Homo sapiens: one gene and its partner. The protein of the gene in region 1 binds, or shares a complex with, the protein of each later gene. Links are inferred from orthologs where the notes say so. Each region holds a gene or a part of one and is shown in the gene's direction. Other genes may lie near its edges.

What was found. Proteins that work in one complex are often made in the same cells at the same time.
Region 2: the proteins of CST3 (region 1) and CTSK are in contact, whole or in part, in a crystal structure (PDB 8V57), measured with the Mus musculus proteins. The link is inferred for Homo sapiens from one-to-one orthologs. Residues at the interface, in NP_034106.2 of Mus musculus: Pro27, Arg28, Met29, Leu30, Gly31, Ala32, Pro33, Gln75, Leu76, Val77, Ala78, Val80, Asn81, Tyr122, Pro125, Trp126, Lys127, Thr133; in NP_031828.2 of Mus musculus: Asn132, Gln133, Gly134, Gln135, Cys136, Gly137, Cys139, Trp140, Glu173, Asn174, Tyr175, Cys177, Gly178, Gly179, Gly180, Tyr181, Met182, Ser248, Ala251, Ser252, Gln257, Phe258, Val274, Asn275, His276, Ala277, Ser297, Trp298, Ser301, Trp302.

What each region holds. Positions count from the first base shown.
Region 1 is NC_000020.11:23,634,918-23,642,493, reverse strand, and holds the start of CST3 (cystatin-C precursor), read left to right. Parts: upstream 1-4,538; 5' UTR 4,539-4,631; coding exon 4,632-4,874; intron 4,875-7,126; coding exon 7,127-7,240; intron 7,241-7,576. UniProt on the Homo sapiens protein: As an inhibitor of cysteine proteinases, this protein is thought to serve an important physiological role as a local regulator of this enzyme activity.
Region 2 is NC_000001.11:150,805,261-150,812,140, reverse strand, and holds the start of CTSK (cathepsin K preproprotein), read left to right. Parts: upstream 1-3,880; 5' UTR 3,881-3,927; intron 3,928-5,334; 5' UTR 5,335-5,335; coding exon 5,336-5,455; intron 5,456-5,916; coding exon 5,917-6,039; intron 6,040-6,124; coding exon 6,125-6,280; intron 6,281-6,880. Other genes in the region: ARNT (aryl hydrocarbon receptor nuclear translocator), read left to right, coding at 31-120. UniProt on the Homo sapiens protein: Thiol protease involved in osteoclastic bone resorption and may participate partially in the disorder of bone remodeling. Displays potent endoprotease activity against fibrinogen at acid pH. May play an important role in extracellular matrix degradation.

The sequences.
Region 1 (7,576 bases):
CAGAGCCATCTGTTTTCTTCGTGGCCAGGCCTCTGCAGGGAGTCAGGTGGAGCCCTGGCAGCACCAGCCAGCAGCCTGTGTCCCTGGAGGCCTCTCTCTCTCTCCCTTCCACTCAGATGTGGTTCTTCAGTCACTGGCTCTGCTCTGGTGAATGCACTCCTTGAGAAAATAAATGTTAACCCTGTAATCCAAAATGATGAGCGCCGTTTACACATTTGCTCCTGAGCAGAAATGTCCCAAGGATTCTCATCCCCCCATGAAGTGCAAAATGGGCCGCAGACACCGGGCTCTGCCCTTTCTCGCCTCAGTCTGCAAGGCTGCCAGCAGGCTTCCCAGTGCGGATCAGTTTCCTAATGATGTGGCTTCATCTCTATTGGAGCCAAATGCATTACCAATGTTGGCCTACGGTCTAGAAGCATCTGCATTTCCTCCATCGTTGGGGAGAGAGAGGGGAGAAGGAGGGAGCCTGTGTGTAAGGGACAGGCTTGACCCCAGAGGACTCCGGGCACTCCATAAGGAAGGCTCCTGGGCTTTGCCTTTGAGAGGCTACCAAAACCCGTGGCTGCTCAGTCCAAGCTCCCTCTATAGACACCGAGTGATAATTGCTCAAAACCCAAAGTGCAGAATCTCAACTCTTGGCCAACTTGATTTAACCACTTGCACCTTTAGGTGCTGTTTATGTGTTTGGTCATTTATTTATTATAGCATTGTTTAGTGTTGTTATTATTGCTTATTTATTATAGAGAATTTCTGCCATTTACCTAATTTCTCACTCTACTAATTCAGATGATGAGATCAATAGTCAAAAAGGCAGCCTGGGAGACCACGGCTTTCTCTTTCATCACCTGGCAGAAGGGAAATATGCCCCCTCCTGGGCAGCTGGACTCCTCCAAGTACATGGGTGCTGGAGGCCCCAGGCTCAGTCCTAGGTCCATTGTTTCTCTCTGTGTCTCTGTAGCATGTCTTTGAAGCTGTAGGCTGCTCTGTTACTTTTAATCGTGTTTAAACATCATCACTGATGCCCAGGCACAACAGTTTACAAGGCAGTCTACCTCTCCAGACACATGACCACAGAGAAGGCAAAACATTTGCTCAAGGTCACCAAATATCAGGAGCAGCTGCCCAGCTACTGTAACCTTTCACTTCCTATTACAGCATACTGAACACGGCTCCTGCAGCTCCTGAGAGCACCCTACACTGGTGTCTGTCCTACAAGGGTTAGAGAGGTCGCTGCATCAGGCCAGCTGACCCTCCCTGCAGCATGTGCCTGCAGGGCACGTCCTGACAGAGGATGACCACCGGCGGTGGAATCACATACAGGGAAATAGGCCAGCACTTCAGCTCCCACCTCACACCCCACCTACCACCATGCTCCTGCTATTTGGGTGACCTGCACGTCCTTCCTAATGACAAAAGACAGGGGATTTGTGTGTATTTCAGCTTACCCTCTGCACAACACATCCTCTTGAGACTAGAGCCCCAGTGGCCAGGGAAGGTGGGAGCCACAGAGAAGAACCAACTCCCACACTTGGGAGATGACCATTCTGCTCACAAGCACCTGGCCAGGGGCTGCCCTCTCTTTCCCTTCTCTGAAAATCTCTCCCCATTTCCTGTCTAACTAGGAGGCATATGCGCAACCCTGTTTGAAGACCTTCCTTCCCTCACCCAGCAGTAAACACCATCTGGGCCACCTGCTGTATCTGCTGGGGTGCATGGCTTTTCTAGGGACGCTGGATTGACAGTGGGGTGAGATGGTCACTGGGCCTCGGGTAACAAGGTCCCCTGTCCCACCACTGAACATGAGCATCCATGAGTAATATTGTTCCCGCTGCCGGGTTCCTGCTGATCCAGCCCCAGCCATGGCGGAGCCCCAGGATCACAGCAGGTCTGGGCTGACCCTGGCTGACCCTCACCTCCACCACTCCCAGGAGAGTCCTCTGGGTGCCCTGCAAAGGCCCAGAGTTTTCTGGTGTTTCTGGCAAAGCTGCCACCTCGCCATAAGGGCATTTGCCACAGGGTCACCTTCAGGCATGGAGGGTGGGGTTGAGAGAACAAAGGGAGCAGCTGTCTGTTCAGAGCCTCCTTTCCACCCTCGCCACTCCTGGAGTCACATTCCAGCCCAGGTCCGCAGCATCCCAAGCTGGGGACTTTGTCACCCCACAGGGCACCCAGCTGATCAGGTCCTCTCAGTCTGGGGAGAAGAACTCACAATCCTGGCAATGAAGGAACTCAGGGCCCACTGGAAAGCCACACTGAGCAAAGGACAAAGACACACCCAGGCTTGCTCTGCAGGACTCCATTTCTGGGAAGCTCAAGGACAGGCGACAAACGAGTCTATAGGGCAGGATGGGGGCTGCCAGGGCAGGATGGGCATGAGGGTGAGCTGCAGAGGCAGGAGGACACACCGTCTGGGGCAAGGCAGATGTCACAGGTCTGGACAAAGTGGTAACACGGGTATATGCGTTAATGAAATCCCCCAGATTAGACATTTTGTTGTCTATAAATTCTACCTCACTCACAGTGATGTTCTAAACTCAGGTGAGTTTTCCAAGCAGTGCAGAGGACCAGCGCCAGCAGCATGACGCCCAGAGGGGAGGAGCAAGAGACACCCGTGGGCTCCCACATTCATCCTGTGGCTGCTGCTCCCTCTCCTGACACCCCCACTGCCTGCCAATGGGTCTCACTGCACCTTCCACCCGGCCCCACCCACAGTTACCATGAGACTCCAGATCGTTCCCTTCCCTGCTCACACTCCCTCCAGGAGCTTCCTCTTCCTGGAGCAGGCATGCCCAGCCCCGCCTCAGGGCCTTTGCACTGGCCCTTCCCGCTGCCTGGGGCTGTTTCCTGTCTAGGCAGGGCTTCTCACCTTTCCAGTCTCATAGAGTCCTCCCTGACCAGGTCCAGTGGCATCATCTCTCTCTATCCCATACTCTCACTTCCAACAGAGAGACTAATTTCCTGATATTAATTATTGATCACTATTCGCCATCCTCCCACACACCCTAATGCTGGGCTGTGCAGTGCCACAGCCACCAGCCACATGTGGCCACAGGGTGCTTGAAATGGGGCCAGTACAATTGACACCCACATACACAGGGAATTTCAAAGACTCAGTACACACACCCAAAATAAAATAACCTATGTTATTAATGATTCTTCTTATGTGTTGAAATAATATTTTGGATATATTAGGTTAAGTAAGAAATATTATAAACATTACCTTCACCTGTTTCTTTTTTACTTTTTGAAATGTGTCTCCCAGAAAGTTTTAAATTGCTCCTGGGTTCGTGTCACATTTCTGTCTGGCAGCAGCCCTGCAATGTAGTGTCCATGGCTCGGTCACCCAGGCTCCGTCTCTAGCTCCTAGACTACCTGGTGCAGGGGGAAGCTGGTGAAAAGTCTGTTTACTGAATAATGAGTTGTGAAAGGAGAACCCAGAGTTTTTTACTCAAATAAAGGTTAATTCTTCTGTTTGAAAAGTTCCCTAGCACAGGGCATGGCCTGAGTCTCCTGTGGCCTCTGGAATCACACCTCTGCCTTAGTGATTTCTAGACCTTGACCAAATGCTCACGGATACTCAGGACCTCTGAAGACTCCGGAAGGCCGAGACCTCTATCTTTCCCTTTTCTGAGGAAATGAAGCTAGGGGGTCGTATGCTTTTAGGGCCCAGGGGGCCTTGACACCTCTCTGGAGGGCAGGGTGACCTAAGCTTGGGAGGAGGGACAGGTCTTTGGGAAGAGATGGAGCTGAGGGGGTGGAGTGGGTAGAAGGGGGGCATAGGTGTGGAAGGGGTGGGGGAAGAGGGGCCAGGAGTGGGGTGAGAAGAGGGGAAAGAAGAGGATAGGAGGGACAGGGACAGGGAGAGGCCAGGAATGGGTAGGAAGGGAAGACAGAGGAGGGGCGGGACGAGGGAGGGGCGATGAAGAGGGGCCGAGCTGGGGTGGGGGCGAAGTGGGAGCAAGGACAGGAGTGGAGGAGGGAGATGAGGGGCATGGGAGGCGGTGTCTGGGGGTTGAAAGGGGAAAGGGACAGAGGAGAAGGAGCCTGAAGAGTGGCGGCATGGAGGGGCCCGAAGTGGGGAGGTGGGAATGGTCGGATGGATGGGGAGGAATGGGGAGGATAGGAGAGGCAGGGGAGGCTGGAAGACAGTAGGAGAGGAGGGGGAGGGGAGGGGAGGGGATGGATGGGAATGGATAGGGAAGGCCAGGGAGACTGGGGGGCCAGGGGAGGAGGGGAGGGAGAGGGGAGGCGGGAAGGGAGAGGAGAGGCCGGGAGGGGCTGGGAGGGGAGGGAAGGGGATGGATGGGGAAGGACAGGGAAGCCTGGAGGGGCAGGGGAGGCTGGGATGGGAGGAGACTGATAGGGAGGGACCTGGAGGCGGGGAGAGGCAGGGGAGGCGGGGAGAGGCAGGGGAGGCGGGGAGGGAGAAGGGAGGTGGGAGGGACGAGGCGTTCCGGAAAAGGGAGTGCAGGCCGCGGTGGGGTGGGGCGGCGAAGGCCGGAAGGGATAAAACCGCAGTCGCCGGCCTCGCGGGGCTCACGGCCTCGCCTCGGTATCGCAGCGGGTCCTCTCTATCTAGCTCCAGCCTCTCGCCTGCGCCCCACTCCCCGCGTCCCGCGTCCTAGCCGACCATGGCCGGGCCCCTGCGCGCCCCGCTGCTCCTGCTGGCCATCCTGGCCGTGGCCCTGGCCGTGAGCCCCGCGGCCGGCTCCAGTCCCGGCAAGCCGCCGCGCCTAGTGGGAGGCCCCATGGACGCCAGCGTGGAGGAGGAGGGTGTGCGGCGTGCACTGGACTTTGCCGTCGGCGAGTACAACAAAGCCAGCAACGACATGTACCACAGCCGCGCGCTGCAGGTGGTGCGCGCCCGCAAGCAGGTGCGTGCCGCCCCCCGCAGGGTCCGAAGCCCCGGCCCCGCCGTCCCAGCCTCCCCCCGCGCTGCTCCCGGACCCCGTGCTGCTCCTCTCCGGCGCCTGGGCTTCTCACCCGGACCCTGTTCCCGGTCTTCGCTGTCACCCCCGAGCCCTTGGCGGGCGTGTCCGGGAATGCCCTGAGTCTGGCCTGGCCTGGAACCGCACGGACACGTCAGGTCCGCGCCCGGCGCCTAAGATCAGCTTCCAGGAGCCAGCTCGAGCTGCGCCGCAGCGCGGGGGCAGGCACAGGACGTCCCACACAGCTCTGTCCCGACCTCCTGGGACGCTGGGCTCCGGGTGCGCTGCTGAATACGCAGGAGAAGGAAAAACAGAGCCCCTCATCTGGCTGCCTCCTTGTTCTTCCACCAAATAATTTTTAAGCACTTTTGTTTCTTTTAACTTTTTATTCTCCCGTAATTTCAGACTTACAGAGCAGCTGCAAAATAGCACAGGGCATCCCTGTAGATCTTTCACCCAGATCCCTCAGATGTTAGCACAGATGTTAACATTTTGCCCTGTTTGTTCCCCCCAGCTCACTTTCCGAATGTGAATATGGGTGTGTGTATATGTACTGTATATGCATTTTTTGCCTGAATCTTTTGAAAGTAAACACTTCAGTGTGTTTTTCCTAAAAACAAGGGCAATATCGCACATAATCACTATTCCATTTTGAAAATCAGCACTGACACATTCATGATCTAATGCTCAGACTCATTCAGCTTTCCCTGTCTGTTGACGGCCTTCGTGCCCTAGGACGCTCCTGGGCCATGAGTGCATGAGTTCAGCCCTGTCCTGTCCCCTCGGCCTCTTTTAACCTGCAGCAGCAGCTGGGTCTGTGCCACGACCGTGCCATTTCCCAGGGTCTAGCAGGTGTGGATGGAGACTATGCTGACTCTGGGTGGGCTTGATGCTGCTCAAGATGAGATCTAGGCCATGCGGCTCATCCTCCTCCCAGAATACTCTCCGCAGGGGCCACACGTGAGCCTGGCACCTTGTCCTGCAGAGCCCTGCTTCCCTCCCCAAGTCACACCCCTGGGCACAGTCCCCTAGGACTAGCGGCCTTCACCCTCAGGCCGGCTGACCACCCCCTACATCCCAGGGCAGCTGAGTCCCTGCTGGGGTGGAGCATGCCTGACCCTGCCTCTATCAGCTGATGCAGAGTTAGACCTCAGCCAGATGAAGACACCCAGCAGACCGGAGTAGGGGGTCGGATCGGGAGGGAGCTTCAGTAGGGCTACCAGGCCCAGCTTGACCTGCATCCCATGGCAGAGCAGCGAACAGTGACACAGACTTTAGAGCTCCTCCACCTTCTCTTGGAAATTCAGAGGAGTCCAGACCAGCCGCGTTTCTCCCGCAGCCGTCAGCTGGGGCCCTCTCCCTGCACAGGAGGGCCATTCCCTGGTGTAGGGTCCCCGCTGGCCTGCACCTCTCTCTCACTGGGAGTGAAGCATGGGGCATTGTAGATCGTTGGGCCCTGGAGCCTATTTTACAGAGGAGCAGACTGACACCAGAGGGATCACAGGCCTTGCTTGTGCTTCTACAGGACTTGTGTGTGGTTCCACAGGGCAAGGTCTAGCACCCTGGTCCCAGGGTCCCTCATCCCATGCTTCTCCACAGTTCTGACAAGTCATGTTTTGGGGCGGCACTGTGCAGGGAAAGCATTCAGTTCTCTTCTGAAGTTGCAACCCTAAGACATGCAGGTGTGTGACTCACTTTAGAAATATTGCCTTGAAAATCACACCTGGAATGGAAGCACGTGGGAAGCAATGTTTATTGGCCTAAAACATCAATGTATGTGAGCATCTCATCTCCTAGTGAGAAATGAGGAAAAATACCTCTGGGTTAAATGGCAGGAATGAGATGCTCTGTGGACTGAATGCCAGGAACTGGAAGTTTGCCGAAATTTCATCATCACATGAGAACCTTCCTAGAATAGATCCAGTGTCCCTGCCCCCTGGGTCATAGGTAGCGGAATTCAGTTAATCCTTGGCATTGGCATAGAGAAACAAGTTACCGGGGAGGCCTGGGGCATGGCATCCCTGCCAGCTGGCAGGAGGAGGTGGCTTGTGTGCCTTGCAGGTGACAATGTGGGCAGCTCATGAAGGTAGGCTTGAAGCCCCAGGCAAGCCCAGTGACCCGGTCACAGTGAAGTGCCTGTGTGTGTAAGAAACTGACAGAACGTGCTGTCCCTGCCTCCTGCTCTTTCACATGTGTAGATCGTAGCTGGGGTGAACTACTTCTTGGACGTGGAGCTGGGCCGAACCACGTGTACCAAGACCCAGCCCAACTTGGACAACTGCCCCTTCCATGACCAGCCACATCTGAAAAGGGTATGTGCCTTATATGGGTCCAGGGCCAGTCATACACTGCAGAGGGGTGTGTGTGTGTGTGTGTGTGTGTGATGCACATGTTCTGCAGGGTACGTGTGCATGTGCCTGAGTGTGTGTACACGTGGAGATGCATATGTGTTTCCAAGTATAGGTTTGTGTGGGGAAGTGCACGTGAGTGTGTGCAAGTGGGTGTGTGGATGTGTTGGGGAAGTGTGGGGGTTTATGCATGGATAGGTGTGGGTGTGTGAGTATATGTGTGTGCACATATGTGTGGGGGTGTCTGTGCACATACATTCACATACATGGGGGTTTCTGTGAACATACATGCTGTATTAT
Region 2 (6,880 bases), on another chromosome or scaffold:
GACCCAAACTTAATCTTTTTCTTTTATCAGGAGATGCTGTCCATGCTGGGAGATCAGAGCAACAGCTACAACAATGAAGAATTCCCTGATCTAACTATGTTTCCCCCCTTTTCAGAATAGAACTATTGGGGTGAGGATAAGGGGTGGGGGAGAAAAAATCACTGTTTGTTTTTAAAAAGCAAATCTTTCTGTAAACAGAATAAAAGTTCCTCTCCCTTCCCTTCCCTCACCCCTGACATGTACCCCCTTTCCCTTCTGGCTGTTCCCCTGCTCTGTTGCCTCTCTAAGGTAACATTTATAGAAGAAATGGAATGAATCTCCAAGGCTTTTAGGACTGTCTGAAAATTTGAGGCTGGGTGAAGTTAAAACACCTTTCCTTATGTCTCCTGACCTGAAATTGTATAGTGTTGATTTGTGCTGAGATCAAGAGGCAGGTTAGAAGAACCTGACATCCACTGTTTGCCTTGGATAGTATGGCTTGTTTTTGGAAAGAAATTCTGAAGAGAGTGGAGGAGAGGAGAAATGTCCTCATATTTGAGGACCATGAAACATTGTAGGTATATATGGGGCTTTAGCAAGTTTGAGCATAGGCTCTTTTTGCTGCCTGTGAGCAGTCCCTCTGGAAAGAAACATGTGAGTAAGTGAGAGAGAGTGTGTGTGTATGTGTGTGTGTGTGTGTGTGCGCACACATGCTTCTGTATTTCACTCTTTCTCCCTATTAGGGAGTTATGCAAAATTTGTCCCCGATTTTACCTTTGTCTTTCTGTGTACTTTTCAAAGAGTCCTAAGGAGTTAAATCTTCCAGGTATTTTCCACTTAGTATTGCAGCCAAAGAATATTTAAATAAACGTCTTTGCTGCGCTTGCATCCATGCCCAGCCAATATACAACTGTAAAGCAAATATAGAAAGTCGGCTGTTGATACGATTGTCTGTTATCGAACACATTCAGTGATAAAGCTGGGTTACTGCTGCTTTTGGTGCTCTCACCTTATCTGGAAGATCTGCAAACATTACCTAAATAGGCTGGCAAGATAAACACTTTCTGGAACCCGAGACTTGGCCATAAAGATAATGCTGCATTTTTCTGTCAGAATCACATATGATGTGTGTTCTGTAGAGGTTATTTCTGCATGGAAACTCAACTTCTTGGATTAGCCGTCCCAGTGAAAATCCTCATTGTTGGAGTGTAAACCAAATACGAAGCCCTCTTGCAAAGTAGCCTCTTTCATCCCATACTCAAAATACCCAGTTTAGCAAGCAACTGAGATTTAAGTCTCTCTGGCCCTAAGAGGTTTTTCCTCTTTGCTCCCTCCAATCTTGAGATTGGGTTTTGCTTTAGAGTGCAAGTATCATAATTCCGTATGATAGATGGGGCCTGGACACCCATCTCAACAGGGTCACTTGGTAATTAACAATAGCCATATAAATGCGGATACAGGTTACTACCCTCACCCTTTACCTTCCTCAGGTAACAGTCGTAGATACCAGCTTTTTTTTTTTTTTTTTTAAATTGGCTTTGGCCAGTAGCTAAAGTGCAAGACTGAATTAATGAGAAGATATATTAAATGTAGTCATAGGGGACTGAGGAGCAAGGGTGGCCTTGAAGAGGCCAAAGGAATGTCCATTTGCTGAGTTTCCCTTCCTTATGTCTCCAGTCTGGTGCCAGGTAGTGGAGTAAAAAAGGAGACAGTTTATTTTTTTATTCTATGTGCACACTTACAGTATACATATATATTTATATCACAATTTACGAAACCAAAAAGTTGAGTTTCCAATGGAACCCTTGTTTTTTAATAATCGACTTTTTAAATGTGATCAGGACTATAATATTGTACAGTTATTATAGGGCTTTTGGGGAAGGGGAGGATAGCGAGAAGATGCTCTGGGGGTTTTGTTTTTGCTTTTCCTTCAGGGTTTTATTTTTGACTGTTTTGTTTTCTTGTTGGCCATTTCTGTATTGCTGGCATCTGTGCTAAGCTTTACAGTGGCAAAAATAATGACATGTAGCAAAGATTTTCAAACAAAATATTTTTTCCTTTTGTAAAATTTCTTGTGTTGTGTGATCTTGATTGCGGCTTTATCATTCCTTTCCAGTTCATAAACAACAGGCACCCACAACCAGAGGAATCTATAGTTTAAGCTCCAGACATACAAACATAAGGCACATTGTGTCTTTAATTTCAGGAATCAGAAATCATAGGGTTCTGATCACATTGCACGCCTCCCCCCTCACTTGTCCTCCTGATCCTGACACATTCTGAGTAACATCAGCAGGAATGCTCTGACCATGAGGTGGGGGTTTTGGGGTGGGCGTTGCCTGGGTTCTTGGGAGAGAGGGGAAGAGTCGGGACTTGAAAACCACTAGGGCACATCTGGATGCCTTCCCCCAGTATGTCCTTTTCTGGATTAAAATGAGTGAAATTTAAACTGTTCAAGTCTGGACCTGGTTTCCCTCTAGGAGACTATGTTGGTTCATTAGCAACTTTTTTTTTTTTTTTTTTTTTTGTGTGTGTGTGTGTGTGTGTGTGTGAGAGATGGAGTCTCGCTCTGTTACCCAGGCTGGAGTGCAGTGGCACGATCTTGGCTCACTGCAACCTCTGCCCCTTGGGTTCAAGCAATTCTCCTGCCTCAGCTTCCCAAGTAGCTGGCACTACAGGTGTGTGCCACCATGCCCAGCTAATTTTTGTGTTTTTTTTTTTTAGTAGAGATGGGGTTTCACTATATGTTGGCCAGGCTAGTCTCGAACTCCTGACCTTAGGTGATCCACATGCTTTGGCCTCCCAAAGGCCTGGGATTACAGGCGTGAACCACTGCGCCTAGCCTGTTAGCAGCTCTTAAAATCCAGAGGCATAAGCCTGTATTTTTGAGGGTTTATGCATGGAATCCAGCTAGAAACTGAGTCTATTACAGATCCCATTTATTATCCTTTCTATTCCAAGAAGCCTTTTTTTCTCCTTCCCCACATCTGTTTATGGAAGAAAATGAAGTTTGGGGTGTGGTTTGAGGAATCAGCTAGATTCTTATGATCTGTCACATGCTTGGATGTTGGGGAAGCATTTGGAGAAGCTCATGTGACTTGTCCTAGATTGGGGATTTTAATTGAGACAGATGATGTTTATCGGGCATCCCACCACCTGAGAGTTTTAGCAACAGAGTCACATGTGAGTCCATCAGAACTTACGGCATTGATTCAAGTGCTGTCATAAATAACCAGGACTGCTGTTTTTGGTTACTTTTAAAGACAGTTTCATCTGGACTTTCTGGGCATATCCTCCTTCAGCAAAACCACATTAGGCTGGGAAAACTATTCTGCCTGGAAGTAATGACAACTTGCAACCAACAAGCTTATAAAAATACAAAGAATTCTGGAGCCTATGGCTTCCATTACATTATTCTTTTATAGCCTTTTATGTTCATTACCGCATCCCAGAGGTGAGAGTCAGACACAAATATGAAAATAGGTTTCAATGTTGGAGAGGTAAATCCTAACAGGAAAGGGGTAGGAAAAGATATAATCCCCCAATATTAAAATAAAGATATTGAAGAAGAAGGATGGGAGAGACTAGGGCTGTGTCCTTCCTTTTACTCACCAAAAGAGAAAGTAAGCTCCTATTTGAGTCAATAGATATTGAGGTCTTGTTATTTGCCACCAAAGACAGTCTTGTGAGACTAAATAGCTAGTAATTCCCTACCCTGGCACACATGCTGCATACACACAGAAACACTGCAAATCCACTGCCTCCTTCCCTCCTCCCTACCCTTCCTTCTCTCAGCATTTCTATCCCCGCCTCCTCCTCTTACCCAAATTTTCCAGCCGATCACTGGAGCTGACTTCCGCAATCCCGATGGAATAAATCTAGCACCCCTGATGGTGTGCCCACACTTTGCTGCCGAAACGAAGCCAGACAACAGATTTCCATCAGCAGGTAACGTTTGCAACTTCCTAGATCTTTTAGCTTTTCATTCCTGTCAATTCTCTGAGTATTAGGGATGTAGTGACTTGAGGATCACAATAAACTTTTAGCCTCTGCAGATGAAAACAGAGATGCACTTCTTAGGTCATTCCCTGGCTAAATAAAATCTGCCTGGAAATCTGTAGAATTCCTTGTATGATTTATATATATACATACATGATTGTTAGTAAAAGCAAAGTATATAGGGAATCATTTCCCCATCCTTCAAGAGTGGCCTTTCTGCAGTGTTTTCTACTTTGGCCAACAAGGATCAAAACGGTTAACTCCTTAGTGAGGAGGAGGAGAGTGGTATGGGGAGGTAGTAGCTCAGTGCTTCCTGTTCACTGAGACATCTCAAAGCCCTTAACACTCTAGTTTTTAAATGTCCTACTGGACATTTTGCCAGTTTGCAAAATTACATGTAAATGGACTATAAGCAATTGTGTAAGCCATATGTCATGCTGCAGGCTGCAAATTGTTCTTAAAATGGAGGATTTGTAATTAAGAAAGCCAATGCAAGAAATGAGTGAAGCTAACTAGAGTAAACTTATGAAAAGCTGTGAATTTCATCATCATAGAACATTGCTTTTCAGTCTGAACATTCTTCTAACAAACCTTGGATCTGAGGCTTCTTGTCCTTTGCGGCAGCCACAGTGGGTTTTTGTTGTTAGGGGAAAAATAAAAAACCTTGCCCGCAGCATCTGGTTAAGATTAGGGCAGTTTCCTGCCTAAGGAGGGAAGGGAGAGAAAAAGGAAGAAGAAATGCATAAGGAGAATGAGGAGATATACAATGTCTCAGAAAACAGGAAACATTGTCCTATTTTCCCTTGTCCTCTTCTGACAAGATCTGGGAAAGTACCAGAATTTAGGCACGAAAGAGAAGAACGCCTCGAAGAAATGATCAGGAGGCAAAACTTAGACGGAAATCTCTCCTTTGTGTATTCTGAACCCCACTACCACCTTGCTATTTGTCTGTCTCCAAGCCTGCTAGGGACCCTGGAGGAAACGCACTGAGCCCATTCTGATTGTCCAGTTTCTATCCCCCATTTCTGGTTGTGTACGTGTGTGTGTGTGTGTGTGTGTGTGTGTGTGTGTGTGTGTGTGTGAGAGAGAGAGAGACAGAGAGAGAAACAGAGAGAGTGTGTGTTGCCTAAATCTCCCGAGAGAGAGAGAGAGAGAGAAAGAGAGAAATGGCTAAATCCCCCTAGATCAAAGTCCTTGGAACCAGATGTACCAGCATCCTATCTAAACACAGGCCCCTCCTGACTATCATTGTTTTATCACCCTTTTTCCGTCTACCTTTCTCTTCCTCATAAAGCCTAGTTTTCCTCTGTTTCCCTGCCAAATGGAAGAGTTTTCCCTAACTACATTCTTCTGCAGGATGTGGGGGCTCAAGGTTCTGCTGCTACCTGTGGTGAGCTTTGCTCTGTACCCTGAGGAGATACTGGACACCCACTGGGAGCTATGGAAGAAGACCCACAGGAAGCAATATAACAACAAGGTGCCTGGGGTCCTGGAGGGGGCATGGCAGGAAGGCTGAGACCTGAGCTCTCTCATCTTAGCTTCCAGACTCCCTTCTTCAATCCAAATGCTTTATTCCAAGCAAATCAGTCCCTCTTCCCTAACTCATGTTAACATACGGTTTTCATTCCTATGCTTCAAATCATCCTCTGTCAAACTGTATCCTTCCTTTGCTTTATAAGTGTGTTACATTTCTCTTTTGGGAAGAGTTCTAAGATTAATGCTGTTAATCTATAAGCAATTTTTCTGTCTCTCCAGAGCTTTGTGTTGTATTTGTTTACATATTATCTCTTCTTGCAGGCTCTTAATTCCATGGTTAGTTCCCCAACTAAACTGTAAACTTTTATGATTGTGAGTTTCCTTTATTCTCCTAAAACCCTTCACAATATTACATATGTAACTGTAGACAGTCTATACAAGTACTGACTATGCTTTGTTTAGGTGGATGAAATCTCTCGGCGTTTAATTTGGGAAAAAAACCTGAAGTATATTTCCATCCATAACCTTGAGGCTTCTCTTGGTGTCCATACATATGAACTGGCTATGAACCACCTGGGGGACATGGCAAGTATAGCTTCAGCTCCTGTCCCACCTGCACCATTTGCTTTAGTTCCCTGCTGATGCCTGGCCTCTTTCTTCTTTGTCTTAGACCAGTGAAGAGGTGGTTCAGAAGATGACTGGACTCAAAGTACCCCTGTCTCATTCCCGCAGTAATGACACCCTTTATATCCCAGAATGGGAAGGTAGAGCCCCAGACTCTGTCGACTATCGAAAGAAAGGATATGTTACTCCTGTCAAAAATCAGGTACTCTCCTTTCTTCTGGGTGTGCATATGTAATCTGGCATGACCTTTTCCTTTTTCTGCTGCTTTGTTCTTGAGGTGAAAGGGCACCAGGAAAAGAGGGCAAGGAATTAAGGTACATCTCCCCATTCCCATTCTGTTATTTAACCTCATTTGTTTCTGTACATTTGGGTTGTTTCTGGTTTTTCTTTTTCTTTTCCTTTTTTTTTTTTTTTTTTTTTTTTTGAGATAGAGTCTCACTCTGTCGCCCAGGATGGAGTGCAGTGGTGCAATCTTGGCTCACTGCAACCTACACCTCCCGGGTTCAAGCGATTCTCCTGCCTCAGCCTCCTGAGTAGCTGAGATTACAGGCACGCGCCACTACGCCTGGCTAATTTTTCTATTTTTATAGAGATGCGTTTTCACCATGTTGGCCAGGCTGGTCTTGAACTGACCTCAGGTGATCCACCTGCCTCAGCCTCCCAAAGTGCTGGGATTAGAGTCATGAGCCATCGCGGCCTGGTTTTTCTTTATTACAAATAGTGTTGCAATAAGCACCCTTGTGCATATGTTTTTGTGCACATGTACAAATATTTATGCAAAATAAGTCCTAAAATTGGAATT